Homo sapiens: one gene and its partners. The protein of the gene in region 1 purifies or fractionates together with the protein of each later gene. This does not show direct contact. Each region holds a gene or a part of one and is shown in the gene's direction. Other genes may lie near its edges.

Region 1 (4,338 bases):
ATGTAATCCATTGTTTTCTTGTGGTATATGATCCTCAGTGCGTGTATGTATGTTTTAGGTGTAGATGGACCTTGGCTTTTTACCAAAGTAATGTTTCCTATTTGATTGTCAATATCTTCTCTACTAAGTTCCAGCCTTTTGGGGGACTTTTGGTCATGGTAATACATTTTATTCATGTCTTTATGATATGTGAGCAATGAAATGCATAAGTGTTAAGGAAAAATATTTATTTTTATATTATTTTTATTTTTCTCAGTGTGTGCTGTATTTGTGGGCCTTGAAAATTCTCTACCCCAAAACACTGTTTTTACTTCGTGGAAATCATGAATGTAGACATCTAACAGAGTATTTCACATTTAAACAAGAATGTAAGTATACTTCAACCTCCTTCCTTTAACACTATATGTGCTAAAAAGTAATTTTAATCAATAATAAGATACATACAATATGATCTATTGCCTAAAGTCAAAGACTTAAAGTGACACTCTTTCATATTATCCTATATTTCTTTCTAAGCATGGACATTTATGAGAATTCAGAATTTCTTTTTAAATTAGAACTTCTTTATAAAGTGATTGAAGAATTTGAATTAAGATTTGATGTAATTTATCCTAAGAAACAAGTGATTTAGGGATGCTACTGTTTGGAACAATAATTCTACTCATTAATCTCACATTACTCAAAAAACGCAAATGGAGGGCAAATTCAACCCTATGCCTCTGTTTTGGACCCAATAAATGAATACTAGCTTCTAGTGAATCTTATAAAACTGAAGATGATGTCATTCTTTAGACATAGACACTAGGAGTGTGGAGTGCTTTTTTCAATTTCTTTTTCCTCCTTACAATTTTTCTTATTATTCACTGAATCTTACAAAGGTATAAAACCTTACATTTTTGTTTTATGTATAAATACAGTTAAATGGAAGAGCTGGGAATCTCTCTATACATATCAATATTTTTCTCTTTCATTTAGTCCTATATTCAATGGAGCATAAAGACTTCTCCTCTTAAAACATTAGATATAAGTCATGGGAAAAGCAATGTGCAGTAAGATAGAAACAGCTTTAGGAAATGTCTTGCCATCTGCTTTTCTACAAAATCGTTAAGGAATATCAAGCAGCTTTATGGCTGTTTTTCTATTGGTCTTCCAGTTGTTCATGTACATTTTTTTGGTGAGACGTCTGCAGATAAATAGCCAGAATGTATATAAAAATTCTCTTGCTATACAAAACGTTATGAAAATTATAAAGTATGAATTAATAAATGACAAAAACAGGAAATACTAGATATAAAAGATTAATATGTTACTTTCAGAAAATCTTAATTATGTTTTGGAATTTTGTAGTATGTGCCTTTATGTTAATAATAGGGTCCTAGCAAGAAAACTTCTCAAAAAACCAAAACTATTTCAGTGAAATGATCCTGCCTATAAATCATAAGTATTCTTTTAATCACTTCTAAAAGGTAAAATAAAGTATTCAGAACGCGTATATGATGCCTGTATGGATGCCTTTGACTGCCTTCCCCTGGCTGCCCTGATGAACCAACAGTTCCTGTGTGTGCATGGTGGTTTGTCTCCAGAGATTAACACTTTAGATGATATCAGAAAAGTAAGTTTTGTTATTTTCCAAGTCTAATCATTTTGTGCGCTACAGTAATAAATAGAAGACATTAATTACCCTGCCTTTATCACTGACTTTATTCTTTTGAGTTCAAATAATTTAAAGTGGTCATGAATCGCTCCTTTGTGTTAAATTTTTATCTAGAAAGAGAGATATGTTTATACTTGGAAGAATTTTTATCTCTACAACCTCAGGGTTGGTCTTACCATCTGACATGTGTCTTTGGAAATATAAAATATTTGACCTCTAAAAAAAATATGCCTTATCATTTCCATTTGGCTTTTTTCAAACAATCCGTTGTATATTCATGATGTGTTATGCTAGAAATGTTGCTTTGCCCTTGGGAAAATATCATAACATAACCATTAAACTGTGCTCATTTTATGGTTTTTTAAAAATCTATTTGTTACAACTTGAGACTTTTAAGTAGCAATCTAACAAGGACAGTGATAATATTTTATTAATTTTACTGAGTGGCTGAGTGAAAAACTGGACTTTTTAAGAAGTATTTGTAAGAAGTTTTTAAGAAATACTCCAGTTTAGCATTGGCTATTAACAGTTGTTTAAACCAGCAAAAAGATGAGTTACATTGAATGTGGAAGTGGATTGTGTCTCTTTCTTGAGTAAATCTAGTAACATGGGATAGTTTTATGTAGTACAATAGATAGACAATCTTTTATTTCTTTGGTATGTTTCTAACTCTGATTGCAATGATGTAAAAGATAGAGAGTAATAAAAAATCGCAGTGTATTTTTCTTGGTGCCAAAATCGGACCAAAGGGAGAAAGTGATGTAAATGTTTTCTTAGGTCATTTTAAAATAATATTACTTGGAATTATTTTAAAGTATGATAATTTCTTCACATTGATATTTATAACATATGTTATTGAAAATTTGTGCCCACCATTAAGCTTTCTATCTAGGAAATCTAAGCCAAATTTTTTCTGGAGGAATTATAAACAGTTGAAAACTGTATTTATCTTCTTTCCTCTACTTTTAGAGACCTAAGAAAATACGCTTGTACTTATCCCATAGAACAGAGGGGTGAAAATAATTCTAACCTTTTATTATTATTCTCACCAGTAATTTTAGCAAGAATAAATTGGTCACATTGTTCTAAATTACTGTATTTGAACTATAAAGATTGGAATTTTGCTGAGATTTCTTCTAAAGATACATACTACTCAGTATATATTTAAGCCTAATGTATGATAGGTAGACTTTGGCTTCAAATAAGTGATGCACTAATCTCAAGGTGTACAGAATTTATTTCTTAAGTTATAGGTTCACTTAAGAATAACCATGGGCACAGTTCAAATTCTAGATCTTGCTTATCATTAGGGGCATTCATACAAAGACTCCCTTGGTGTCACTTGTTTGATTGATTGCCATTTAATTGTTTTTTTCCATTTCTTCTGAGTTTGGAAACTTGATTGCTAAGTCTGAGAAGTCTATATGATGAACATTTGCAAGTTAATTCTATCAGCTGCCATAAGTTATTAAATTAGTAAACAGTGTTTTCCCATTGTGTTCAGTGGAGAAGGAAAGCAAATATTTTATCTATTCATGTATCCATGTATCATATTAACCTGATAACCACTTATTGAAATAGGTTTGGAAAATGAAAAGTCAAATTACAAATAAGTATAGTAGTTTCTGTTAGCAAATGATGGGCATGAAAGACATGCATTTATGTTTTATTCTCTTGCCTTGATCAAATTTCATGGCCTTGGATGGAAGATGAGAAACTTACTAAGTGTCCTCCTTCAAAGGGGGATTAGTGAAAACTTCCCTCAAAATAGTGTTTTAATTATTTGAACAAAACTGATACACTGAATAGAGTTCTATACTGTAGAGAATAAATAGAAAGGATAAGGCTATTGTACTATTTTGTTTAAGACGCAATCACCAGCAAAAAGGTTGTAAACCTCTACTACAAAATGAATAACCATTTTCATATAGCTCTCATTTGTAGTGTTTCTTTAATACTTTTGTTAATGAAACTCATGGTTTTGAGGAAATACTTTAGTAAATTATGAATGTATTTGCATACCATAAGTCTCTACTACCATGAACTCAATATTCTTTTAAAGTTCATTAGTTTTTAGAGAAAAATTATTTTCAGGTAAAATAAAACATTCAAGTTCTTCCTATCATTGAGGTTCAAGTGTTCAAGTATAAAAATAATGTGTTTACTTTCCTATTGGAAAGAAAATGCATGCTTTTTATTTTAAAATTCAAGCGAAAGCACAATAAATAAACCTTGTTTCCTGCTCTGTGTCTTTGTGTCCATTTTTGCAAGACACTATTTCACACTTCTATAGAGCATAGAGCATTGGTCTTTGCTCTATATTTAAAGTACAGTAGAGATGTGATGCTGGTTCAGTATAAAATTGTTTCTTTCTGGGCCAAGCATGGTGCCTCACGCCTGTAATCCCAGCACTTTGGGAGGCCGAGGCAAGTGGATCATGAGGTCAGGAGTTCGAGACCGGCTTGACCAACATGTTGAAACCCCATCTCTACTGAAAATACAAAAATTAGCCAGGCATGGTGGCGCGCGCCTGTAATCCCAGCTACTCAGGAGTCTGAGGCAGGAGAATTTCTTGAACCTGGGAGGTGGAGGTTGCTGTGAGCCGAGATCGTGCCACTGCACTCCAGCCTGAGTGACACAGGGAGACTCCGTCTCAAAAACAGAAATGTTTCTTTCTGCATGAA
Region 2 (4,338 bases), on another chromosome or scaffold:
GAGGATGAATGGACGTGGAGGCAGCACAGAATCCAGGGCCCTCCCGACCTCAGGGGGCTGCAGTCTGGTTGGGTGGGAGAGATGTTTGTGACCTATTTGCTAGGCCTGGGGTCCCCATCCACCCAGGACACACAGGGGCACCCACTTCTGTTGCATCTTCATGCTCCTGCCCCTAGTGGCCATGTTCTGAGAGGTCTTAACATCTGTCCGTCCCGTGCTGAAGTACAGAGCAGCCATGTGGTGTCTGCCAGGCACTGGGTAGCTTTAGCCCCCGCAATTCCAGGCCCCCAGAGTGTGGGTCTCGTGGCCGCAGAGGCCTTCCAGCCAGCCCTGCTCCCTCCACCCCACAGGTGCTGACGCCCCCCTGGAGCTGGGGGACTCATCCCCGCAGGGCCCAATGAGCCTGGAGTCCTTGGCGCCCCCAGAGAGTACCGACGAGGGGGCCGAAACCGAGAGGTGCCCAGGCTGGGGTGCAGGGGCGGGAGGTGTGGCTTACTGGGCGCTGGTGGGTGGGTGCAGGGTCACCGCTGCCATCTGTGCCTGCCTGTCCCAGGCTCTTGCTCCCCATGCTCCTCTGCTGCTCTCTGGGTCTGGCCATTCCTCTCCCTTCTTCTTTCCTTTTCTCATCTCCCTCCTGCTTCCTCATTGCCCCCCTTTCCTTTTATCCTTCCTTTTTCCTCTGCTCCTTCCTCTCCTTCCTTTTTTCACTAATCCTTCTCCTCCTCCCTTCCTCTCCACCACTCCTTCCATCTCCTTTATTTCCCCCTCCTCTCTCACCTCCCCTCTCCTCTCTCACCTCCCCCATCCTCTCTCACCTCCCCCCTCCTCTCTCACCTACCCCCTCCTCTCACCTCCCCGCTCCTCTCTCACCTCCCCTCTCTTCTCTCACCTCCCTCTTCCTCTCTCACCTCCCCCCTCCTCTCTCACCTTCCCCCTCCTCTCTTTCCTCCCCACTCCTCTCTCACCTGGGTTTTCTTTCCCCACCTTCCATCCCCCTCCGATCTCCCTGCCACTTTTCATTTTTTCAGCCCTTCCTCCCCTTCTCTTTCAAGCCCCCCTGCCCCCTGCCCCCCACCCCCCGCCTCGCTCCTGCCTCCTGGTGCCCGTCCCTCAACCCCCCACCCCTCTGCTCTGTGCCCTGGGGGCCCTGTCCCCCTTACAGCTGGGGGGCAGGCTCTGCCTCCTGCCCGTCCTTGTGCCGCTGCTTTGGGGACCCTTTGGTGGGTGCGGGGAGGTGGGTCAGGTTCCATCTGGGCCCACCTCTGACCCTGTGCCCCTCTCTCCCCAGAAGGTGGAAGAGGTGGGTGCCTGGGCCCTGGGTGGGGGAAGGGCTAGCCCCTCCCCCATTTCTCCCAGCCCCTCCCCTCTCCCCATGGCCACTCCCTCCCCTTCACTCCCTGTGAGGGGTGGGTGGGGACATCACCCTCCCAGTTGAAGAGCTAAGTATGGAAATCCTCCCCACCCCATAACACCCCCTCTGTTGCCATCCCCCTGCCTCAGGGAAGGGAGGGGGTCAGTCCTATGCTCCATCCTGGGTTCCCCATCCCTTCCCCCATCAAATTTCAGTATCCCCCCTCCCCCAAGACCCCCCACTACCCCAGTGCCCCTAAAATCCCACCACTCCTCTGACTCTCTCCTCTCTTCTGTTGCATGTTTGATCCCTGTCCTGGTCACCCTTGCCCCGGTCCTGGTCTCTCCCTGTCTCTGTCCCTGTCCTGGTCTCTCCCCGTCTCTGTCCCTGTCCTCGTCTCTCCCCAATTTCTGTCCCTGCCCTGGCCTCTCCCCACCTCTGTCCCTGCCCTGGTCTCTCCCCGTCTCTGTCCCTGTCCTGGTTTCTCTTCGTCTCTGTTCTTGTCTTGGTCTCTCCTTGTCTCTGTCCCCGGCATCTGCCTGACTCTGTCCTTGGCCTCGGGGTCCAGGCTATCAGGGCGTCTGGGGCGCTCAGAGAGCCTGCGGGTGAGTGACCGCCGCCGGCCTTCCCGGGGCAGCCTCGGGGCTAAGGGCCGGGGTGGGGGCCGCTCCCGGAGCGACGTGGACATGGACCCCAGTTCCGCCACGGCAGTGCTTGGCCCTGCCCGACGAGCCACGTATGTCAACCCTCTCCCTTCCCCCATCCACTAAGGCAGCCTGGAGAATCAGGGAGGGATTGTTGTCAGAGTCACAGAGGAATGGGCGTTGGAGACCGAGGTCATTGAGGCCAACTGTGGTCACAGACCTTGGAGGAGGAGGGGGTAGAATGCTTCTAGAGATCTGGGAACTCTAGTGTGGTCCGATCTAGAGACCTGGTCTGCTGCACGGGCCACCCTGCGGGCATCGAATGCCAAGGCCACTGACCGGGGTTGAACGCTCTAAGAGGCTGAAGGCTGCTTCTTGGGATGGCCCAAGCTGGGGCCCTAACAAGGCCTCTGTCCACAGCCCCGAGCCTGGAGATGAGGGGGAGCCGGGGCGGTCGGGACTGGAGCTTGAACCAGAAGAGCCTCCCGGCTGGCGGGAACTCGTCCCCCCAGACACCCTGCACAGCCTGCCCAAGAGCCAGGTGAAGCGGCAGGAGGTCATCAGCGGTGAGTACTGCCCCCATCACCCCACTGTGGCCAAGGACACAGTCCAGCTCTGGCAAAGGCAAAGACAGGCGCAGAGAGATGTTCATCTTGGTGTCATTTACCATCGGGAGAACTTGAAGGCAGCTTCAAATTCCCTCTTGTTCCAAGTTCAGATTGTTTCAACACAGAGCATTTTGATGGAATGTGAATGCCACTGTGGAAGGGACATTTCCAAACATTTCTAGTAGTGCAATACAGTGCTGATGTTGAGAACACTGCATTTCTGGTGCAAGCTTTTATTTCCTTGCTTGTGAAATGTGGGCATTAATAGTTCCTACCTCAGATATTGTCATGAAGATGAGATGATTTGTGTGAAATGTTTAGCATAGTGCTGGGCACAGAGGAAGAGCATTTTATTTTATTTATTTTTTTAAATTTTTATTTGAGGCAGAGTCTCAGTTGGTCTCTCAGGCTGGAGTGCAGTGGCACAATCACGGCTCACTGCAGCCTTACCCTCCCAGGCTCAACTGATCCTCCCACCTCAGCCTCCCGAGTAGCTGAACAGGCATGTACCACCATGCCTGGCTAATTTTTGTATTCTTTGTAGAGATGGGGTTTCGCCATGTTGGCCAGGCTGGTCTCGAACCCTTGGGCTCAAGTGATCCTCCTACCTCAGCCTCCCAAAGTCTTGGGATTACAAGTGTGAGCCACCAGGCCCAGTCAAGGAAGAGCATTTTAATGAGATTGTTGTTACTAGTTTGATCTTAATTGCTTAGGGGAGAAAAGATCCCCACAGGGGAAAGTTTGGGAGAATGATCAGTATATTAGCAGTGCTTGCTTCTGCGTGGAGAGATGATGAGTGTATCATTTTTGTCTTTTTCCTTTTTTCCTTTGCTAATTGTGTGGTGGCTAGGGAGGCTGGTGGCAAAAAGAGAAAGCTTTTTTTTTTTTTTTTTTTTTAAGACAGAGTTTTGCTCTTGTTGCCCAGGCTGGAGTGCAATGGCACAATCTCGGCTCACCACAACCTACGCCTCCCAGGTTCAAGTGATTCTCCTGCCTCAGCCTCCTGAGTAGCTGGGATTACAGGCATGTGCCACCACGCCCGGCTAATTTTGTATTTTTAGTAGAGACGGGGTTTCTCCATGTTGGTCAGGCTGGTCTCGAACGCCCGCCTCAGCCTCCCAAAGTGCTGGGATTACAGGCGTGAGCCACTGTGCCTAGCCCAAGAGAAAGGTTTGGGACTTGACTGAAAGCTTATTTACAGATTACTTCATAGTGAAAAAGATACTTATTCAAAAATTTTAGGGGAGTAGTTGAGTACTTTTTGGGTCACAGATCCTTCTAAGGACATGATAAAAAAAAAAAAAAACATGAGCCATGTGCTACCCATTAGGACTTTCTGGAAGATGGAAATGTGCTTTATTTGTACTGCTCACCATGGGGACCATCGGCCACCTATGGCTGGTGAGCACTTGAAATGCACTAGGCCAGGCACAGTGGCTCATGCCTGTGATCCCAGCACTTTGGGAAGCCGAGGTGGGCAGATCACTTGAGGTCAGGAGTTCGAGACTAGCCTGGCCAACATGGTGAAACCCCATCTCTACTAAACATACAAAAATTAGCCAAGCATAGTGGCGCATGCCTGTAATCCCAGATACTCGAGAGAGTAAGCCAGGAGAATTGCTTGAACCCAGGAAGCAGGAGATGGAGGTTGCAATGAACCCAGATCACTCCACCACACTTCAATCTAGGTGACAGAGCAAGACTGTGTCTCAAAAAAAAAGCACTAAATACAACT
Region 3 (4,338 bases), on another chromosome or scaffold:
TAGCAATTTTCTGTATTGATTGCCTGTATGCATACTTATAGTGGAGAATTTGCCACTGATGTAACTCTTTTCTTTTTTTCTATTTATAATTTTATGGGTCTGAATCTAATAAAACATTTGGACTTGTATTTTGTATGACCTTTTTAACTTTTATTTTTCCAGCAGTTCATTTTAATTTTACTTTTTAAAAGTGTTGGTCCATGAAAGATTGTAATTTTGAAGAAGGAAAGTGGTTTTTCACCACACATAGTCTGGGCGATCTAGGCCAGGCACAATGCTCACATCTGTAATCCTAGCACTTTGGGAGGCCGAGGTGGGTGGATCGCTTGAGCCCAAGAGTTTGAGACCAGCCTGGGCAACATGGTGAAACCCCGTCTCTGAAAAAAGAAATACAAAATAATTTGCCCGGTGTGGTGGCCACATACGTGTAGTCCCAGCTACTCAGGAAGCTGAGGTGGGAGGATCTCTTGAGCCCAGGAAGCCGAAGCCACAGTGAGCTGTGATTGCACCACTGCACTCCAGTCTGGGTGACAAGAGTGAGACCCCATCTCAAAAAAAAAAAAAAAAAAGATAATCTGGGAGATCTGTCCTATCGTAGTTCTCATAGTATCCATCACTGACCTTATTTTACTGATCATCTTGCTTTATTATTAGTTATATTCCCTTTTAACCAAAAGCTCTATGAAGGGCAGAGTCCATGTTTGTGTTTGCTGTTACGTCTTCAGTATCCAGAACAGTGTTCGTTACTTAACACCTATTCAGTAGATATTGGTCGAAAGAATTAATGGTACTTTTACATTTTTTTCATTGTGTGGGAATAATGATTAACTTCTACAGTTACAAATAAGTTGCTACTATAACCATATGTCCTTGGGGAATGTTAATTTTTTTAAGCTCAATAGAAAATATTCTTGGCATTTTTCTTGCTGAATACTAGGGATTTTAATAAAATGTTTATATTTCCACAGCACAACCAGTGTCTCTGAAGAAGATGTCTCAAGTAGATATTCTCGAACAGATAGAAGTGGGTTCCCTAGATATAACAGGGATGCAAATGTTTCAGGTACTCTGGTTTCAAGTAGCACACTGGAAAAGAAAATTGAAGATCTTGAAAAGGTATGGATTATAAGTTATTTAAGATTGATAAAATTAATATACCATTAGAATTCTTTTGTTTCATAGCAACTGAGTGAGAAAGGAAATAATATTCCTTAATATTTAATATGTGCGCTTTTCTGCCAACTGTTACCTTTAGTATATTAAAAGCCCTTGTTTTTGAAGTGGTTAGAAGTCTGAGCTGGCAAATATATACTACTGTGTATTTATTATATTGTCTGAATAGATTTTCATTTGTAACTTTACAAATTACAGGAGTAAATCTGAGTTAGGTCCATCTTTGGTGTTTGAAACAATTTTGTCTAAGAATATGCCTGTTTAAAAGTGTCTTTCAGTGCAAGTCAGATGACTCTTGGCATAAATTTATTAACCATAGGGTCTCAGGTTTGTGCCATAGACATTCAACCCCTAAAATTAGCAATGGTGTTGAATACTTTTGTAATTGTTGAAAATGTGTTTTGTTTTACTTGAGATTATTCTCTATATTATTAAAGATCTAATTTATATATGTTATGTAAAGAAATTTCATTTTTAAAACTTGTTTCTATTTTATAACATTTATGATTTTTTGAGGTCACATTTCTAAGCTTTAACAACAGTTTCTTCTTGGAATTATTATTTCATAGTTTTATTTATTTTTATTTATTTATTTAGTTTTGAGACAGAGTTTCGCTCTTGTTGCCTAAGCTGGAGTACAATGGCTCAGTATCGGCTCACTGCAACCTCCACTTCCCAGGTTCAAGTGTTTCTTCTGCCTCAGCCTTCCAAGTAACTGGGATTACAGGCATGCACCACCAAGCCCGGCTAATTCTTTTTTTGTATTTTTAGTAGAGAAGGGGTTTCACCATGTTGGTCAGGCTGGTCTTGAATTCCTAACCTCAGGTGATCCACCCGCCTCGGCTTCCTAAAGTGCTGGAATTACAGGCGTGAGCCACTGTGCCCAGCCTATTATTTCATAATTTTAAATTAAAAAGTTTAGACAATATGTAATCTAATAGTTTTGAAGATAGTTGCCCAGAAAGGCTTCGTGAGTTCCACAAGAGTTTGGATTGAATTGCTAGTAGTTGGCAGCAGCTAAGGGATATGGATGGTTGATTGCTCTGTAGGAGGTTTAGTAAGAAAGAAGCCAAGTTCTGGGCAAGGCCTTTTGAGCTCTGCTTCCCTTTTGCCCCCAAGGTGGCTGACCAAGCCCAGTGCCCTGGATTCTAAATAAGATGTCTTTGAAAAAGATGTTGCATTGTTTAAAGAAAAAAAAAATTAAAAATCAGTAATCTATTTTAGTTCCTTCTTTTTATCCATTATCAGTTAACTGGCAGAGCCAGAAGTAAAACTGAGGACCATTGTTTTTCTGTTTAGAGTTTCTATTGGGCCATCTCCTTTAAACTTTGTATTTTTAAGAAAAATTAATTTTGAATTATTTCAAACAAGATACCCATTAAAAAATAAGGTAGTTCATAACTTATAGTGGTGATAAGCTAAATAAGTTAAATCACAGGCCGGGCACAGTGGCTCACGCTTGTAATCCCAGCACTTTGGTAGGCTGAGGCGGGCAGATCACTTGAGGTCAGGAGTTCGAGACCAGCCTGGGCAACATGGCAAAGCCCCATCTGTACTAAAAATATGAAAATTACCCAGGCATGGTGGCATGCACCTGTAATTCCAGCTACTTGGGAGGCTGAGGCAGGAGAATCGCTTGAACCCAGGAGGTGGAGGTTGCAGTGAGCCAAGGTGCCATTGCACTCCAGCCTGGGTGACAAGAGTGAAACACTGCCATACATACATACACACACACACACACACACACACACACGAGGTTAAATCATTGAGTCTATTACATTAGTTTTGTTAAAGACTTGTATAAACATAGCTTTACTCAGGAGCATCCTAATATCTCCTGTGCATTCTCTGATTCCTTTTGTGGTGGGATCTTTGTTCCTTCACCAAATGTCTTAAGGGATTCATTGGAAATCTTCATGTATGTAAGATATTTTACCAAATTGGGGAGATATATGCCACTTAGGAAGATTATAAATAAACAATTACTTCCTAATTACTGGTTTTTAATTGTATCTACCAGGAAGTAGTAAGAGAAAGACAAGAAAACCTAAGACTTGTGAGACTGATGCAAGATAAAGAGGAAATGATTGGAAAACTCAAAGAAGAAATTGATTTATTAAATAGAGTAAGTATTTCACCATATTTCAGGTTTGGAGGGGTTTTTTTTGGCAATTGGATGAAAATATATAAATATGAAGAAATTATTAATTGCATTATTCACTTTGTTCTTTTGTTAGTGAAATAATAATTAGTAAGAGGTATCATTTTCTTCCAAAAACTGATTTCCTTTGGGCAGTTATCAGTTTAGCTCACTTAATTTTATTCTTTTGGAGATAGACTGATTTATGGATTTGTTCTCTGTTTTGTTAAAATCTGAGGGTGACAGGCGCTTTGTCACTACCATATGTAAGGGCACTGGCACAGAGTTGCCTCAAGAAATATCTAAAATTGGCCAGGCGCTGTGGCTCACACCTGTAATCTCAGCACTTTGGGAGGCCGAGGAGGGCGGATCACGTGAAGTCAGGAGTTCGAGACCAGCCTGGCCAACATGGTAAAACCCCGACTCTACTAAAAATATGAAAAATTAGCTGGGCATGGTGGTGGGCACCTGTAATCTCAGCTACTCAGAAGGTTGAGGCAGGAGAATTGCTTGATCCCAGGAGGCGGAGGTTGCAGTGAGCCAAGATTGCGCTGCTGCACTCCAGCCTGGGCAGCAAGAGTAAGACTCTGTCTCAAAAAAAAAAAAAAAAAACCCTAAAATTGGTACTCTTTATTATTATTATTATTATTTTTTGAGAAGGAGTCTCTCTCTGTTGCCCAGGCTGGAGTTCAGTGGCGCGATCTCAGCTCACTGCAACCTCCACCCCCCGGGTTCAAGTGATTCAAATTGATTACATCAAGATTTATTATTTTAAACTGCAAGAATAAATCTATAAATGTCTGCTTTTTTAACAGTAAAGAGTCTGTCTTGAAATAATGTTTCTTGTAACTAAAACTTATGGTGAATTTGTTTTAACCAGATGGTTGTGTGTTTGGGACAAGGATTAATACAGGGAAAAAAGAGCTGGATCATATGCTTTTAAAGCTGGAGAGCGAATACTTAATTTAGTGGCTTTGAATTAATTTTAGCTCTAAAACCTTTCCTTCAAAATGTCGTAGAAAAGT
Region 4 (4,338 bases), about 83 Mb from region 1:
TAGTCCTAGCTACTCGGGAGGCTGAGGTAGGAGAATAGCGTGAACCTGGGAGGTGGAGCTTGCAATGAGCCGAGATCGCGCCACTGCACTCCAGCCTGGGCAACAGAGCAAGACTCCGTCTCAAAAAAAACAAAAAAAAGAAAACTTTCAGAAATTTATTTTAGTGATTGTTGAAAGAATACCTAAAAAATAGAATGAGTGTCTTTTTGGAGGAACATGACTAGATGGGATTAGTATACTTGAGTACAGAAACAAAATTAAATTGAAAAATTGTTTCCTGATAATCTCAGGAATATGTTTTCAGGCATACTGTATATTTTAGGCAGTAGATTCAATGACTAAGAACTCTGATGTGAAACAATTTTGGTTAACCAAGGTGCTCACTTAAAGAGCAAACGAGGAAATGAGGATTATCAAATTAGAGTAAGTAAAAGGGACAACAATAAAATTTGTTGAAAGCCATCTTAAATATAAATTCTTAGACTTTAAAATACTTTCTTGAGTGGTCTCTTCATTATAATAAATGTCTTTATAAATGGTTAGGATTTCATGGTAACTAAAATTGGTGGGTCAGTTTTAAGTTGTATTTATGCAGTTGAGGATTTTTAATCTATTAATTAAACAACTGTTTGAATTTACTTAAAAAAAAAAACTCAGTCAAGATGCTGTGCATTTTGCTAAAGCTGGGCTGGAGAAGTGGGGAGAGATACAAAGATGAGTATAAATGAAGGTTTTCTTTTAGCCTGTCAGAAAAGAGTAACTCTACTGATTGGTTGATTTTGATAGTTATCGGTAGTGTAGTTTTCCTTAGTTTCCTACTAGAACCCAAAGGGTGGCTGATGTCTTAAAAGTCCTAATCTTGTGGCCAGAAATTTATGAGCTTTTATTTACTCTTGGTCATCACTTTGTAATACATGAGAGTATACTCATTATACATTATACCACAATTTCTGTAACTTGGTTTTTGTCACCCCCGCCTTTTTTTTTTTTTTTTTTTTTTAAGAGACGTAGTCTTGCTTTGTTGCCCAGGCTGGAGTGCAGTAGCGTGATCTTGGCTTACTGCAGCCTCTGCCTCCCAGGTTCAAGCAATTCTCCTGCCTCAGCCTCCTGAGTAGCTGGGATTATAGGTGCCTGCCACCACATTTGGCTGGTTTTTATATTTTTAGTAGAGATGGGGTTTTACCATGTTGGTTAGGCTCTTCTTGAACTCCTGATGTCAAGTGATCCTCCCGCCTCAACCCCCCGAAGTGGTTGGGATTACAGGTGTGAGCCACTGTGCCCGGCGACATTTTTGACATTTTTTAAATGACATTTTTGATCAGGATTGTTTTTCATGTTACTTCCATCTTAAAGGCACTTCGCTGTCTAAGCTTCAATTCTTAGTTCTGCTTTTAAGTAGCTTTTTTTATTCCACACAAAAAGCAGAGGCTACTGAATATACAGCCTTCTTGGTGAGGATTATAAAGGGCTTTAGTTTGGGTGGTGATGTCTGTAGTAAGAATAAAAAGTTAAAATAAAAGGTAGCTGATGGTGGTGGTGTATACAGAGATTAGTAGGGTTTCTAAGAAAGAATAATAAAAATTTGTGAAATTGTTTCTATTTTTCTGATTTTTTTCAAAAAAGATAATTGTATTCATGGATTACTTGTGTAACTATTGTTACAATTTTTAAAAATAAAAGAATGATAATTAGGCATGATGAAGATTAAATCTTTTTTTTTTTTTTTTTTTTTGAGATGGAGTTTTTCTCTGTCACCCAGGCTAGAGTGCAGTGGTGCGATCTCGGCTCACTGCAACCCCTGCCTCCTGGATTCAAGCAATTCTTCTGCCTCAGCCTCCTGAGTAGCTGGGATTACAGTAGCCACCATGCCTGGCTAATTTTTTTGTACTTTTAGTAGAGACAGGTTTTCACCATCTTGGCCAGGCTGGTCTCGAACTCCTGACCTTGTGGTGCACCTGCCTCGGCCTCCCAAAGTGTTGGGATTACAGGTGTGAGCCACTGTGCCCGGCTGAAGATTAGATCTTTATGACTAATTGGATTTTTGGGTAAGGGATTCAGAACTTGATAGATGCTTCTTGACTTAAAGTGGGGCTATGTCATAAGTCAAATGAGTTTAATTCTCAGATAAACTCATCCTAAAGTTGAAAAATTGTAAGTTGGGCCACCTGTAATTGGGGACCATCTGTAATTGGGAGAATGCTAGTGACATTGAAATAATTAGTTATCAGTTAGACATAAATATGTACCTTTTGAAAATTTCCCATAGAAAATTTGAGTCATTATTGAAAATACATTTTCAAATTCTTTTGATTCATCAATAAGTTTGTTTGCAAAAGTTAATGACAGTGGCATAGAATTGAGTTTGTAGACCAAATTACATGGCATAGATATGTATTTAGACGAATATGACCTGAAAATGGCCCTTTTCTGACCTAATGGTGGGAATCAACTCTTGTTTGATGTTTCTTAAAAGATTCTACTTTATTAATTCTGCTTGTTTTAGTTACATCCAGAGCATTCCAGTTGTTAATGAAGAACACAGAGGTGATTTTTCCTATATTGGAAATTTGATGACAAAAGAATTCATAGGTCAACAATTGATTCTAATTATTAAGTCTTTGGATACCAGTGAAGAAGGAGGAAGGTATGTCTAAATGTTAACACTCATTCTAATTTGCCCTTCTAATTTCTTATATTGAAATATAGTCCTTTTACAATATAACTAAACATATTTACCCTAGCTCTCTAAAGTGGTATAAAAAGTTTTCTTTTCCCTTCTACATATTTCCATATATACACATACATTTATATTTCTAGTTCAATTTCCTCAGAATAAATCAATGAAATTGCAGTTTTTGGTTAAAAGTTTCTGTTTAGATTTATTAAGGCTAGTAGCATTTTCTAAAAGGTTTAATCATTTCTGGTATTTTGTCATTTTATCATGTTGATTTATTAAAAATCATAGGGTGTTTTATAAAAATTTTTTTTTGTGTGGAATAAGAATATTTGACCTAAAGTCTGTACATACAGATTTTTGTACCTATTATAGTGATAAACCTAAGTGAAAGAACTGAGGCAAATGTAATTAAGTTTGCAGAGTAGGTGAATGTTAGAGATAAAACATGTTTTGTCATAATAATATTTAAATTAGTTCTTTTTGACTGCAGAAAAAAACTGCTGGCTGTTTTACAGGAGATTCTTATTTTACCCACAATCCCAATATCCCTGGTTTCTTTTCTTGTTGAAAGACTACTCCACATCATTATAGATGATAATAAGAGAACACAAATTGTAAGTAATTTTCCTCATTGTTGATAAAGAGGTTTTGGTCAATGACATTGAATACTGTCTTATTTTCTGTTTAGAACTTTTTGTTTTGTCTGTTTTGTTTTAGGTTCGTCTCTTTAATGAGTTTTAAAATTTCTTAAAACCATTATCTATCTCTTACATACACAGAATATTTGAAAAATGTCACCTTCTTCCTCTTAGTGTACCTGTTATTGTTGAATCAGTTTGAAATGGAGCAGGTTTGGTAGGAAGTTACAAGTGGGGATATGGTTTTGTCCATGAGGCACTGGGTGCTAGTGTTTTTGAGAGCTTACTCAAATTGTACATACTAGGGTTTAGAATCTCATCTGACACTTTCTGGCTTTGTGGCTTTGGACAAGTTATTCTGCTGTTTTACTTGTCTGCAAATAAGAATAGCAATGAAATCTACCTTTCATTTTTCAATGAGGTATTGTTCATAAAGGTATTGTTCTGTATTGCTTGATAAATACAGAAATAATTGTTTACTATAATACTATTTCAGTGTTATTTTTTTCTGGCATAGCCAAAAAAGACAGATCTGTATCATTTATTTCATAAAAATCACATAATTTCAGTTGCAGGTTAATTCACAGATCATCTCTTCCATCCTCTCCTTATATATACACCCCTTCTACAACATGCTTAGTTGTTATTCAGCATCTGCTTAAATACTTTCATTTGGGAGGCAGCCTTTTCCTGATCAGCCAATTCCAATATACAAGTGGTTCTGAAAGGAAAGTCCTTCCTTATGCTATTATTATTTATGCATTGTCTACCCAAAGGAAGAATAAAAGGATATTCCATTTTTCTGTGTTTAACTCCTACAGAGCTGAACAAGAGAAGGGTTGAGGATTTTAGGCAGAGAATTTAAGTGTCTCATCTTAAGCACCATAATTCATATTTCTGTTTTTCAAACATTATATGAGGGATAATTTACTTTCACTGTCTGTGTGCCTATTTCCCTTCCATTCAAATAATTTCATTTTGTAGTCAGATATATTGTTTTGTTTTGTTTTTTTCTAAAATTGT
Region 5 (4,338 bases), on another chromosome or scaffold:
TTGTTTTCTTTTTTTTCCTCTTGCTCTTTCACCCCGTCTGAAGTGCAGTGGCTCAATCTCTGCTCACTGCAACCTCTGCCTCCAGGGTTCAAGCGATTCTCCTGCCTCAGCCTCCCAAGTAGCTGAGATTATAGGCGCCCACCACCATGCCCGACTAGTTTTTCTATTTTTGGTAGAGACAGCGTTTCACCATGTTGGCCAGGCTGGTTTTGAACCCCTGACCTCAAGTGGTTGGTCCACCTTGGCCTCCCAAAGTGCTGGGATTACAGGCGTGAGCCCTGGCACCCGGCCTCAAACTGCTATTAAAAAAACAAAAACAGCTATGATTGTATACTTATATAACACGTTAGTTTTCTTTTTTTTGGTTTTTTTGTTTGTTTGTTTTTTTGAGATGAAGTCTAGCTCGTGTCCCCCAGGCTGGAGTGCAGTTGTGCGATCTCGGCTCACTACGACCTCCGCCTCCTGGGTTCGAGCGATTCTCCTGCCTCAGCCTCCCGAGTAGCTTAGATTACCTAAAATTACCTAGAAAAAAATATGAAACAGTGTACAGTACCCAGCAGTCAGGTGTCAGTGCTCAAGATTTTTATTAAGAGTGACGATCTGAAGTGCAAGCATTTACTGAAATGGAAATGATACTGCACAACATTTTATTTGAAAATTAACATGTTATAGGCCGGGCGTACTGGAGGCCTTACATAGTAACCCAGGGGTATAAGGATATAAAGTTGCATTTTCTCATACAACTCCACTTCCTTTTTTACGTTAAGGTATTATATTCCCTAAAGAGCCTTGTTCTTCTCTATACTTAATACTGCATCAACTCCAAGAAGCTCTTAATTAAAAGAAGATCATCTGGGCTCTTAAGTTGCATTAAGTTAGCAAAAACTACTGCAAAACTGTGACGATTCATAAGATTTTTTTTAAATTCATTTAACAGATGTTAAAATGAAACTGTACTTCACAGAGTCAGTGAAGTACACAGATCTTAATTCATTGTTTAGTAACTTTTGTGGATTGTATAATGCTTTGGCTTCTATTTCAAGTTTTCTTTTTTAAGGGGGAAAGATACTGTTGTCATTTTGAGAAAGGTAGATGGCACTTTTTGTTTTCCTTGTGTAAGAGAAACGGATTGTTATGAAAGCTTTGAACTTTCCTGGAGTTCGAGAGTACACTGGTCCTCTAAGTGCGGTCTCCAAATCACGATGATCAGCATCACTTGTTGGAACTTGTTGGGAATGCAAATTATCAAGCCCCACCCCAGACCTTTGTGATCTAAAAGCCCTCCAGGTGATTCTGATCCACACTGAAGCACGAGAACCACTGACCTTAGGAACTGTTACCTGTTCCTTTGCTTCCGTAGAGTGAAGTAAAAAGTGAGGAACTCAGAAGAAACCAAATTATCTCTCTTTTAGAGTATTTTTTCAGGAATCTTTACCGTATTTATCCTGTGTAAATTGTTTTCTCTGACTGTATCTGTACTAGACTTGGCATGTTTTCTCCTCTTTACAGTTCAATCTTTGTAGAGCTGTTTTCTTGCCAAATTTCAAAGAAAATATTTTGTTGGCTGAAATCCTTGTTTTCATAGATCAGTTGGTTTAGAGCCAAGTTTTGCAACACAGCCTGAATGAAATTGCTTTCAACTTTTAAAATGTCTTGAAATTGGTTGAACTAAGGAAAAATAATCCTAAGAATTTACCTTTATACTATCTTTCCCTGTTAGTCTTTTCATTTTACGTTTTTGATTGCTAGAAATACTTGATTTTGGTGTCTTTTAAAAAAAAATGTATGTATTCGGCTAAGTAATTTAATTGAGCTAAGGGCTTTAAAAGGTCTTTGGTTATTGTATATGTATTTAAAGATTTTGACAGCCCAGAATTAGGTGATTATAACAACTCTTGAGTTAAAATAACTGGTTTGTTTTTAATAGTAAAAGTTGACTTTATTCAAGATCCTGGTTGGAAACTTGGTGTTACCCATCTTGGGAAGAAGGGACATTTTTGGAACTATGCTTGGAAACATAGAATTTAAATTTTTTCCTAAATAGTGGTTCTTTTTCATTTCTGTGTGTAATAATTTATTTGTTTCACAGTAGCAACACAGATGAGCTTAAAATATTTTTTCTTATCCTTTGCGTTTATTAGTTTTAGCTTTTTTTTTTTTTTTTTTGAGATGTAGTCTTGCTCTTGTTACCCAGGCTGGAGTGCAGTGGTGCCATCTTGGCTCATTGCAACCTCCGCCTCCTGGGTTCAAGCAATTCTCCCGCCTCGCCTCCCGAGTAGCTGGGATTACAGGCACCTGCAACCACGCCTGGCTAATTTTTTTGTATTTTTAGAAGAGATGGGGTTTCACCATGTTGGCCAGGCTGGTCTTGAACTCCTGACCTCAGGTGATCTGCCCAGCTTGGCCTCCCAAAGTGCTGCGATTACAGGCATGAACCACTGCACCTGGCCAATTTTAACTCTTCTATGTAGGTAAATTTTGGGTTAACTAAGGAACATTTACCAATTTGGTTAAACTTAGAAAGCATTTAAGTGTTGTAAGGACCAAGTTTTTTTTCCTCCTCGTATATTCCTTTGAAATGTTGATTAATTCTCTACCTTGGGTCCATCAAAATATGATAAATTATTGAGACTTGAAAGAACATTTGGGATTAAAATCTGAAGACCAGAAATGTCAGCTTGTAAATATATTGGCAGATTTGACGCAAATACTAATCAGGCCTTAAAATAGGTAAACTTAAAACACGTTTCTCTCTAGAGACTCAAAGAGCACCTTCAGTCGTATCTATAGAAGCAAGACAAATTGTAAAGTCTTATAAACTGAAGAATGTAATGTTGTTATTTACTATTTAGGTACTTGGAGCAAAAGTATAAAAAAAGTTGCTGTTTACTAACTCATTTGGGTATTATCAATCATAAAAATAGGATTTTCTGTTAACATAGGAAATATAAATCTACATAATTCCTTGCATATCATCTTGTGTTCCTTTCCTTGGGTAAGATTATTATAACTTTTTTAATTAAAAAAATTTTTTTTTTGAAACAGGGTCTCACTCTGTCCCCCAGACTGGAGTGCATGTCATGATCTCTGCTTATTACAGCCTTGGCCTCCCAGGCTCGTGATCCTCCCACCCCAGCCTCCCAAGTAGCTAGGACTACAGGCATGCACCACCTGTAGCTCAGCTAATTTTTGCTTTTTTTTTTTTTTTTTTTTTTTTGGAAGGACGGGTTTTCACCATGTTGCCTAGGCTGGTCTCGAACTCCTGGGCTCAAGTGATCCACCTGCCTTGGCCTCGCAAAGTGCTGGGATTAAAGGCATGGGCCACCATGCCTGGCAAAAGCTTTTTCTTAAGTGATACAGTTTTTTATATGGTTTGATTAATCATTGTTCTAACTTTATTTATTACATTTTTAAGTTGTGTTTTCTGCTTTTTTTATTTTAAAAATTTATTTTTATAAATACAAAGTATATTTTTACTGTTTTTTTGTATTGAGATGGGTCTCATTATGTTACCCAGGCTGGTCTCAAGTTCCTGGGCTCAGCGGAGCTGCCTGCCTCGCATTCCCAAAGTGTTGGAATTACAGGCATGAGCCTGATGCCCGACCCTAACTTAACTTTAGAATTGGCTTGCAGATATGGGACATGAGTCAAAATACGTAGAATTAAGACATTTAGGGAACAACGATGGTGCCTAATATATTTGAGAGAACTGTTTTCAAAGTTAGTAACTCTTTCTATCCGCCTTCACCTTTTAGGAGGAAGTTAACATCCCTAATAGGAGGGTTCTGGTTACTGGTGCCACTGGGCTTCTTGGCAGAGCTGTACACAAAGAATTTCAGCAGAATAATTGGCATGCAGTTGGCTGTGGTTTCAGAAGAGCAAGACCAAAATTTGAACAGGTTAATCTGTTGGATTCTAATGCAGTTCATCACATCATTCATGATTTTCAGGTATGATTTAGGTTATTTTAAGATATACATGAACAATATTAAGAGTTGTCTGGATGATACAGAAACTATCCTTGCTCTCAAGGAAATTACTATGTTTGAAAGCTCTAAAGTTGTATTATGCAGTAGCATTTTTTTCATTTAGCATGACATGGTATATGTAAACCTTAAAGTTAAATTTTGACACGCTGACAAAGACAAATATGAGACATTTTATAAAATGCTTATGTTTATAGAGTGCCTTCTAAGTAATACTTTCTCTGCAAATGGTTTTCAAATGTTACTGTAAACCTCACAACACTGCAAAATAGTTATTTTCATTTTAGGGCTGAGGGAGCAGGCTCAGAGAGGTTTTCGGTATCATTGATACTATTCTCCCTTTGACATGGAT
Region 6 (4,338 bases), on another chromosome or scaffold:
TAACAGATGGCTTAGACCATTTTAGGAAATTCCTGATTGGGTAAAACAGAACATAAACATTTTAGCAATTAAGAGTTAGATATATCTTACAGTCAATAAGTATTCTTTTTTTTTTTTTTTAAACAGTGCCTTTGCTACCCTAGAAGAGGAGGCTTGTACAGAACTTGTTCCTTACCTTGCTTATATACTTGATACCCTGGTCTTTGCATTTAGTAAATACCAGCATAAGAACCTGCTCATTCTTTACGATGCCATAGGAACATTAGCAGATTCAGTAGGACATCATTTAAACAAACCAGTAAGTATCTGTTAAGAACTATTAGGGAAAATAATGTGTAGCATAGTTACAATTAATAGATTAGCATATATTTGGAAATTAAGATGTTTTGGGAGATGTGAATAGTTAGCGTTAGCTACTTTAAGAGTATAGATCTTACAAAGGCAGCAAGTATATCCCCTTTCATGTGGTATTCTTAAAGTAAATACATACTTGGTGTGGAAACTACAGCAGCATTTCACATGAATGCTCTGATACTTTTTAGAATGACTAAAGCAAAGGGATAAAAAAGTTTTTATAATCTGGATATCTGCTTTTACTTAATTCCTAATGTTTTTGAATCTACCACTTCATAAACACTGTAGCTTTAGAGTACCATATCTAGACATCTTTGTTTTTTCAGCAGGTACGGGGAGTATACTGTATAAAACAAATAGAAATTGGGGTAGTAGGTTTAAAAATGCTAAATAGTAATGCAAAAGTGCCTTGTTTCCAGTAGTGTTAGTAGAAGAGGAGGATGGATTTGTCTAATGAGGATTTAAGTGATAGTAGAATTTTAATATAGCTCCACATACCCTGCTGAATAGACTTCTATATGATTGCTATATCCAAAGTCTTAAGAAATTGTTTTATTTTTAAGTTACACTTAAGATTTGGTACAGGGCAGTTTATAGGTTTGCTTTGCTGTTGGTTGTTTGGTTTGGCTTTTGTGGGGGTTTGTTTTCTGAATGTCTTTAGAGTCTGTGCCCCTGTTTACATGATCACTATGTTTAGTCGTTTTATGGATCATTCTTTAGTTTGACACTTAAATGATTTTAAGTTTGTTTTTCTACAAAAGCATCTGTGTAAGTTTACCTGTTGATTTAAAAATGTACTATATAGTAACAGCCATATTACACGTTACAGTTCCATGACTAAAAGGAATTTTTTTGTGTGTGACAAGGTCTCACTCTGTCACCTAGGCTAGAGTGCAGTGGTGTGATCACAGCTCATTGCAACCTCCACCTCCCGGGCTCAAGCGATCCTCCCATTTCAGCCTCCCCTGTAGCTGAGACCACAGGCGTGTACCACCATTCCTGGCCAACTTTTTGTAGAGATAGTTTTGCCATGTTGCCCAGGCTGGCCCAAACTCCTGGGTTCAAGTGATCTGCCTGCCTCAGCCTCTCAAAGTGCTGGAATTACAGGTGTGAGCCACCATGCCCAGCCCCAGAACTAAAAATATTCTGTAACTTAAAGAGAAAAACTTAGGTCTGGGCACAGTGGCTCACACCTGTAATCCCAGCACTTTGGGAGGCTGAGGTGGGCAGATCAAAAGGTCAGGAGATCGACACCATCCTGGCTAACACGGTGAAACCCTGTCTCTTTAAAACTACAAAAAATTAGCCGGGTGTGGTGGGGGGTGCCTGTAGTCCCAGCTACTCGGGAGGCTGAGGCAGGAGAATGGCGTGGACCTGGGAGGCGGAGCTTGCAGTGAGCTGAGATCACGCCGCTGCACTCTAGCCTGGACGACAGAGCAAGACTCCGTCTCAAAAAAAAGAGAAAAACTTAGATCTTCCTTGATTGTGACTTTTTTAAGTAATAGATTTTGATTAGCTGTGTGTTTATTGATAGACTCTTTTTTTCAACAAGGATAAAAGATCAGTAGATCACTAGTTCTAGATCTAAAACTAGAACACGGTCATGTAAGTATAAAGGTAGGCAACAGAAAGGAAAACTTTAAAAGGGACTGTGCAGAGTGAAGAATGACTCTTAAAATGCCTTTTGTAATGATTTTACACAATTGCTCAAAATGGATTTTAATTTTCAAAGACTCAAAATGGTCTTGTTGACATGTGATAGTGGAATTTTATATGTTTTTCATCATTGTAAATAGGAATATATTCAGATGCTAATGCCTCCACTGATCCAGAAATGGAACATGTTAAAGGATGAAGATAAAGATCTCTTCCCTTTACTTGAGGTATGCAGGGCTAGTAATATTTAATCTGTTGCCAAGAACACATGTTCAAATCCAAAATGGGTATATATGATAAGAAAAGTGTTAATAAATTTATATTCTGAAGTAGACGGAGGAAATTATATGATACATACTGTTCTCTAACCTGCTTTACTTAATTGATAATAAATTAGAGTTTTAAGTTCTCTTATGTTATCTACTCTCTATATAGAGTAGATAGCATACTACTCTATATAGTATAGAGTAGATAACATACTGGGAGGATATATATACCGGGATATATATATATATCTTTTCACTCATACATATATGTTGAGTAGTGGGATTTGGTGCCAGTAAGGAGGTACTTATTTTCAAATTTGAAAATGTTTCCATGTGTACTTAACTACTTTTTTTTTTAACACCCCTTTCATTGCAAACTTTTATATGATGTTCTCGTAACTGAACACACTGTGAAATGTAGTCACTTAAACTTAGTTGAATTGACATTGATAGAACCAGTTCAGGCCTTTTCATTCTTGCTCCCTGTTATTTCAAGGTTCACCATCTTCTACCGTGGATTGTTCTTAGCCAAAGAAGTTAAATTTTCTATGACCAAGAGCAATTCTGGGCCCAGCAAAACAAGAAGAATCATTATGGTTCATTTTTTGTATGCAGTCGTCCCTCAGTATCTGCAGGGGATTGTTTCCAGGACTCCCCTTGGATACAGAAATCCAGCGATGCTCAAGTCCCTTATATAAAATGATGTGGTATTTGCATATGGCCTATGCACCTCCTCCCAATATACTTTAAATCATTTTAATTGTTTTTCTAAATACTTTTGATTCAAGATTGGTTGAATCCATAGATACAGAGGGCCAACTGTATATATATTACTTTCCGGCAGGATCTCAGAATGTGCCCAGTAAAGTCCATTCACAACATTGACCAGGATGGGAGCATGAAATGAATCTCTTCAATTTGAGGGAAAAATATGAACACATAATACTCAATCTGTCCTTTAAAGATAATGTTTCTTGTAGAAACGCTTCCTCTGAGTAAACCTGACCTGATTGGCTGGCAAACTAACAACAATGAATGGCTTCCAAAAGAGAGGGTTGGGGTGGGGGGAGGGGAACCTGCTACTGTAGAAACTAGTAGAGCAAGCTCATAAATGATCAGGATCCTGTTGAGCGCAGTTTCAAGCATTCATCATAATCTTCAGTATACCCAGAAAGTTTAGCATGTGTACTTTATTCTTCCTAGTGCCTATCTTCAGTTGCCACAGCACTGCAGTCTGGATTCCTTCCGTACTGTGAACCTGTGTATCAGCGTTGTGTAAACCTAGTACAGAAGACTCTTGCACAAGCCATGGTAATTTTTTTAAAATGTCTTCCTCTTCTTGACATGGTGGACATTTTTCTAAAGATAGGTATAATGTATACAGACTTTTTAAGTAGTTAATTAAAACCAAACTTACAAAAAACATTGTGTCTAATTTCAGCTAAACAATGCTCAACCAGATCAATATGAAGCTCCAGATAAAGATTTTATGATAGTGGCTCTTGATTTACTGAGTGGCCTGGCTGAAGGACTTGGAGGCAACATTGAACAGCTGGTAGCCCGAAGTAACATCCTGACACTAATGTATCAGTGCATGCAGGTGAGACTTGAAAGGTGAAAATGAATTGAAGCCTGTTTCTCTGTGTCACATTGGGGTTAATTTCTTCTTATTTCTTGTAGGATAAAATGCCAGAAGTTCGACAGAGTTCTTTTGCCCTGTTAGGTGACCTCACAAAAGCTTGCTTTCAGCATGTTAAGCCTTGTATAGGTATGAATATTTTCTACTGCTATGAATATGGTTTTTTAAAGTTAACATTTACATCAGCTTTGTTTTTTTATTATTAAACTGAAATTGCATGGAATCCCAACATTTATAAATGTACACTTTATTGGTTAAAGTAAACTTGCTGTGATTGAAACAGGCAAGATGGCAGGAACCCCTAATATTTCCTTGAGCTTGCCATCATCTCAGCTTTTTAGGTACTCCTGTGACTGGAGGAAAGCTTAGTAATATACTTTAGAGTAAAGGACATGCCCACCAGGGAAGCCTTGGTACCATGGA
Region 7 (4,338 bases), on another chromosome or scaffold:
GCATTTCTTGATAACATGTTTCTTACCAGGAAGTCAGGCAGAACTATATATTATAAGTAGTTGAATCTGTTGCAACACCATCTTTTTGATACTCTTTACTTTTGGTCCCAAGGAGAAATGAAAAGGTATGAGGCACATGTGTTTTACTTAAAATCTCTTACTACCCATTCTAATACACATTTTTCATGGCTTCCTTCCCTGTAGAGACTGCAGCACTGTTTTAAGGGATCCTGTTAATTAAATGAATAACGTTTTTTGGGTAGTTACTATTTTTAGGTCCAATTCTTAGTTCCATAGACATCATGACACTCATACTAAGTGGTGTCCCGTTTCTGTTTGTGCTGTGGGTGCCATACCACAACCATGGTTCATAAAGCGGTGATTCCAACCCAGGTAGTCAAACTCCAGAGATTGCATTGGACACCATAATACCATCCTGTCCTTCAATGTTCCTAAAGCCTAGGCCTCGTTTACCCCAAGGTCCTTGCCTTTTATGTGATACTGTCCTCCTCCAGAAGACAGCTAATATAGTTGCTTTTCACACTCATAGTTATTAATTGCTGTTTGTGTGAATAGTCCTATATCATTTTAGGTCAGGTTTTGCCACCAAATAAGTTAAAAAGATTTTAAAAAATTTTTAATTTAGCAAAGCTATTGGAATTCTGCTGAATTACAGACCTAACTAAATGACTTGGAGAAATGAGACACAAAGTGATGTTTTTATTACAGCCTTTTTAATTTTGTTGGTGATATAAGGAATTCTCATCTTACAGGACTGCTGATGGAGGAGGTTTGGTAGAAAAACACTACGTCTTTCTGAAGAGGCTCTGTCAGGTGTTGTGTGCGCTGGGCAATCAGCTGTGTGCATTGCTGGTGAGCTAGTGTTTGCTTTCTGGAGAGCTTCAAGCCCATTTGGGAAGAGCATTTAGAAACTTATGTTTCAATGAGGGGTTGCAAATGTCATTGATTTTAGCCTGATGGGGCAGTGCCATACAAGTTATTGCATGATTCTATAGATTAAATTATCTTAATAGAATAGTGTTTGAGTGATCTAAATTTCTTTTAACAATAAAATAGTTATACCAACGTCAGATATCCACGTCTATTATTCCATAAAGTCAACGTTGGTTTCTTGTGAATTTTGGTACTTACAGAACCTCAATCTGCTGAGTGCTTTATGCTTTTACATTCTGTTAGCCCACGAAACATGGACTTGAATAAAGAACTCTTTTCCCAATCTAAGGGATGTATTATTGGAGCACAAAAGAAAACTTGAGTCTGATTGACCTGGAAAACCTGCCATTAGAGAAATATTTAATACTCAGTCTTATAAGTTGGAAGATAGGACATTGGAACAGACATTTGCAATTGATGTTATATCTTTTTGTGGTGGTTTAAATGGTTAGAGAGGATAGTTTCAGAGATAAGCAACCATTGAGGGGGCCAGGTGCAATGGCTCATGCCTGTAATCCCAGCATTTTGGGAGGGTGAGGTGGGCAGATCACCTGAGGTCAAGAGTTTGAGACTAGCCTGGCCAACATGGTGAAACCCTGTCTCTACTAAAAATACAAAAATTAGCCAGGCGTGGTGGTGCATGCCTGTTATCCCAGCTACTCGAGAGGCTGAGGCAGGAGAATTGCTTGAACCCTGGAGGTAGAGGTTGCAGTGAGCCGAGATCGTGCCACTGCTCTCCAGCCTGAGCAACAGAGTGAGACTCCATCTAAAAGAAAAAAAAAAGAAAAGAAACTATTGAAGGGATTAGGTAATAGGTTGGGACACAGAGATGTGAATAGGTAAGGTCTGAGGAAGTAATACAGATTTTTTTTCTTTCTGTAATTTCTGAAATGAGTGTTTTTTATTTTACTGTTTGACCACAGAATGGGTTTTAATGATGATGATTGAGTAGGCAAAGTAATGATGATGATTGAGTAGGCAAAGTAACCTATATTTTAGCCCTTGAAGTGATGCCTTTCTTTAGCCAAAAGGAAATACAAAGTCCTTTTGAAACAACATTTTTTGAGGGTTTAATTTATCTGTTTTTATTACTTCCCTGCTTTTTCCTCTCCTGCTTTTCTCGATCAACACCGTTAATATAGTGGTCTTCTCCTACAGGGTGCAGATTCTGATGTAGAAACACCATCAAACTTTGGAAAATACCTGGAATCTTTTCTTGCTTTCACAACCCATCCAAGTCAGGTAAACTTTATACAGGTAACTTCTCAAAAGTTTAGTTAGGTGAACCAATGTCAAGCACTGTGTCCTGAAATATTATTGTAGATCATGTATAAAATGTGACTCTTCAGGCCTTGGGGAATGACCGTAGTGTCATTTCATTAAGAGAATTATTGGCTCTTCTTCCTGAGCCAAACAGTGCACTTGTCTAGGTCAGCAGCTTTTCCCTTTAGGTAATATTCTGATTGTACTCAGTCACATGTGAGGTGTGTCCCAGGTGGTTTAGTACTAAAGTTATAAAGATTTTTGAAACAAAAGTCTGATTAATTGTATTATAAAATTAATTTCACTCTGTTCAAAATTGTCCTTCTAATATCACTCTGAGATTCCAGTATCCTTTTTTGCAAAGAAGAGAAAGTAGTAAAATTCAGCTCACATTCCAGGTAATTTCCTTGATCCACAGCCTGTCTTACTAACATGTGGTCCATAGTGGGTGGTCATTACTGATAAATTGCAGTAGAGACAGCTTCAAAGTATTGTACAGATTTATTTCTATGAAAAAATGTAGTTGATAACTGCTAAGTAATAATCTGGGTTATATAGAATCCAAATCCTTTGACGTTTTCTTTTTTTTTTCTCTTTAGTTTCTACGCTCTTCAACTCAGATGACTTGGGGAGCCCTCTTCAGGCATGAAATCCTGTCCCGTGATCCTTTGCTATTAGCAATAATACCAAAATATCTTCGTGCTTCCATGACTAACTTGGTCAAGGTATATAATGGGAATCTAAACATGTGGAATGTAGGTGAATACACATAATAAGACTTTGAGGCTGGGTGCGGTGGCTCACGCCTATAATCCCAGCTCTATGGAAGGCTGAGGCGGGAGGATCGCTTGAGCCCAGGAGTTGGAGACCAGCCTGTGCGACATGGCAAAACCTCGTCTCTACTAAAAATACAAAAAAATTAGCAGGGCATGTTGGTATGCACCTGTAGACCCAGCTACTGGGGAGGCTTAAGGTGGGAGGATCACCTGAGCTTGGGAAGTTGAAGCTGCATTGAGCTGAGATCGCAGCACTGCACTCCAGCCTAGGCAATGAGAGTGAGACCCTGTCTCGGGGGAAACATAAAAAAGACTGATTGGCATTATTAACAGCCCTTCTTCATCACTAAGATTCCTTTACTGGACATATTTTCTTATTCCTTAGGAAGAAATCAGTCCTTACTGGTTATTATAACTGCTCTTCCATATGAGAGTACTTAATATATCATAAGTATTGGGCTAGGTGCTAGGGCAAGAGCAGTGACCATACAATGTAATAATTGCTATTCAGGGGTTAAAAGCAGAATGCTTTGGAAGTACATAGGAGGGTTGAGTCAGGAAGATTCCAAGAGGAGGCAATATCTAAGCATTGCTTCTGGAGGCCAAGTGAGAGTTACAAAGGGAAATGAGGGGAGTGAGAGTGGAAGCAAAGATTGCTCACTACCTCAGTAGAGAGTTGCTCATGAATTCCCTGCTAAGAGCTCTTGCAGTTGACAGATTGTTAATCTCAATTTGTAACATCAGAGAATGGTGCACATTCAAGGGTCCCCTTATTTTCTTAAGGAATTTGCCTAGCACATAGCACACACTGGTGTTCTGTGTTTTTTTTTGAGACGGAGTCTCACCCTGTCACCGAGGCTGGAGTGCAGTGGCACGATCTTGGCTCACTGCAACCTCTGCCTCCTGGGTTCAAGCAATTCTCCTGCCTCAGCCTCCCAAGTAGCTGGGACTACAGGTGCCCACCACCACACTTGGCTAATTTTTTGTATTTTAGTAGAGACAGGGTTTTACTGTTTTTCCCAGGCTGGTCTCAAACTCCTGAGCTCAGGCAATCCACCCGCCTCGGCCTCCCAAAGTGCTGGGATTACAGGCGTGAGCCACCGCACCCGGCCACACTGTGTTCTTATTTTCTGCCATGGTCTTCAATTCTTTTCTGAATGAAACATACAAAGTTCTACAAGTTTATTCTCAGTGTTCAGTATTTGAGGCAAGTAGCTCTCAGTTCTTTCTTCCTTACTACATACTGAATTGTCATTTTTTCTGGGGACCTTAAAAGAATTCAAGAATTTAATTCTCCCTGAGGAACTTGGAGGATGGTATCAACTAAAAGTATTCTCTTTTCTAC

Evidence for each region.
Region 2: the proteins of PPP3CA (region 1) and ARHGEF1 fractionate together in Homo sapiens (co-fractionation; one large-scale study listed by BioGRID). This does not show direct contact.
Region 3: the proteins of PPP3CA (region 1) and PAWR fractionate together in Homo sapiens (co-fractionation; one large-scale study listed by BioGRID). This does not show direct contact.
Region 4: the proteins of PPP3CA (region 1) and NCAPG purify together in Homo sapiens (affinity purification with mass spectrometry; one large-scale study listed by BioGRID and IntAct). This does not show direct contact.
Region 5: the proteins of PPP3CA (region 1) and MAT2B fractionate together in Homo sapiens (co-fractionation; one large-scale study listed by BioGRID). This does not show direct contact.
Region 6: the proteins of PPP3CA (region 1) and TNPO1 fractionate together in Homo sapiens (co-fractionation; one large-scale study listed by BioGRID). This does not show direct contact.
Region 7: the proteins of PPP3CA (region 1) and XPO5 fractionate together in Homo sapiens (co-fractionation; one large-scale study listed by BioGRID). This does not show direct contact.

Annotation. Positions count from the first base shown.
Region 1 is NC_000004.12:101,095,641-101,099,978, reverse strand, and holds part of PPP3CA (protein phosphatase 3 catalytic subunit alpha), read left to right. Parts: intron 1-256; coding exon 257-368; intron 369-1,466; coding exon 1,467-1,612; intron 1,613-4,338. UniProt on the Homo sapiens protein: Calcium-dependent, calmodulin-stimulated protein phosphatase which plays an essential role in the transduction of intracellular Ca(2+)-mediated signals. Many of the substrates contain a PxIxIT motif and/or a LxVP motif.
Region 2 is NC_000019.10:41,896,027-41,900,364, forward strand, and holds part of ARHGEF1 (rho guanine nucleotide exchange factor 1), read left to right. Parts: intron 1-350; coding exon 351-456; intron 457-1,288; coding exon of another isoform or gene 1,289-1,300; intron 1,301-1,919; coding exon of another isoform or gene 1,920-2,087; intron 2,088-2,415; coding exon 2,416-2,561; intron 2,562-4,338. UniProt on the Homo sapiens protein: Seems to play a role in the regulation of RhoA GTPase by guanine nucleotide-binding alpha-12 (GNA12) and alpha-13 (GNA13) subunits. Acts as a GTPase-activating protein (GAP) for GNA12 and GNA13, and as guanine nucleotide exchange factor (GEF) for RhoA GTPase.
Region 3 is NC_000012.12:79,593,289-79,597,626, reverse strand, and holds part of PAWR (PRKC apoptosis WT1 regulator protein), read left to right. Parts: intron 1-968; coding exon 969-1,116; intron 1,117-3,193; coding exon 3,194-3,298; intron 3,299-4,338. UniProt on the Homo sapiens protein: Pro-apoptotic protein capable of selectively inducing apoptosis in cancer cells, sensitizing the cells to diverse apoptotic stimuli and causing regression of tumors in animal models.
Region 4 is NC_000004.12:17,820,480-17,824,817, forward strand, and holds part of NCAPG (condensin complex subunit 3), read left to right. Parts: intron 1-2,503; coding exon 2,504-2,644; intron 2,645-3,167; coding exon 3,168-3,291; intron 3,292-4,338. UniProt on the Homo sapiens protein: Regulatory subunit of the condensin complex, a complex required for conversion of interphase chromatin into mitotic-like condense chromosomes.
Region 5 is NC_000005.10:163,508,247-163,512,584, forward strand, and holds part of MAT2B (methionine adenosyltransferase 2 subunit beta), read left to right. Parts: intron 1-3,755; coding exon 3,756-3,950; intron 3,951-4,338.
Region 6 is NC_000005.10:72,889,660-72,893,997, forward strand, and holds part of TNPO1 (transportin-1), read left to right. Parts: intron 1-126; coding exon 127-298; intron 299-2,150; coding exon 2,151-2,237; intron 2,238-3,479; coding exon 3,480-3,587; intron 3,588-3,717; coding exon 3,718-3,876; intron 3,877-3,956; coding exon 3,957-4,044; intron 4,045-4,338. UniProt on the Homo sapiens protein: Functions in nuclear protein import as nuclear transport receptor. Serves as receptor for nuclear localization signals (NLS) in cargo substrates.
Region 7 is NC_000006.12:43,558,782-43,563,119, reverse strand, and holds part of XPO5 (exportin-5), read left to right. Parts: intron 1-712; exon of another isoform or gene 713-773; coding exon 774-873; exon of another isoform or gene 874-1,720; intron 1,721-2,112; coding exon 2,113-2,196; intron 2,197-2,816; coding exon 2,817-2,942; intron 2,943-4,338. UniProt on the Homo sapiens protein: Mediates the nuclear export of proteins bearing a double-stranded RNA binding domain (dsRBD) and double-stranded RNAs (cargos). XPO5 in the nucleus binds cooperatively to the RNA and to the GTPase Ran in its active GTP-bound form.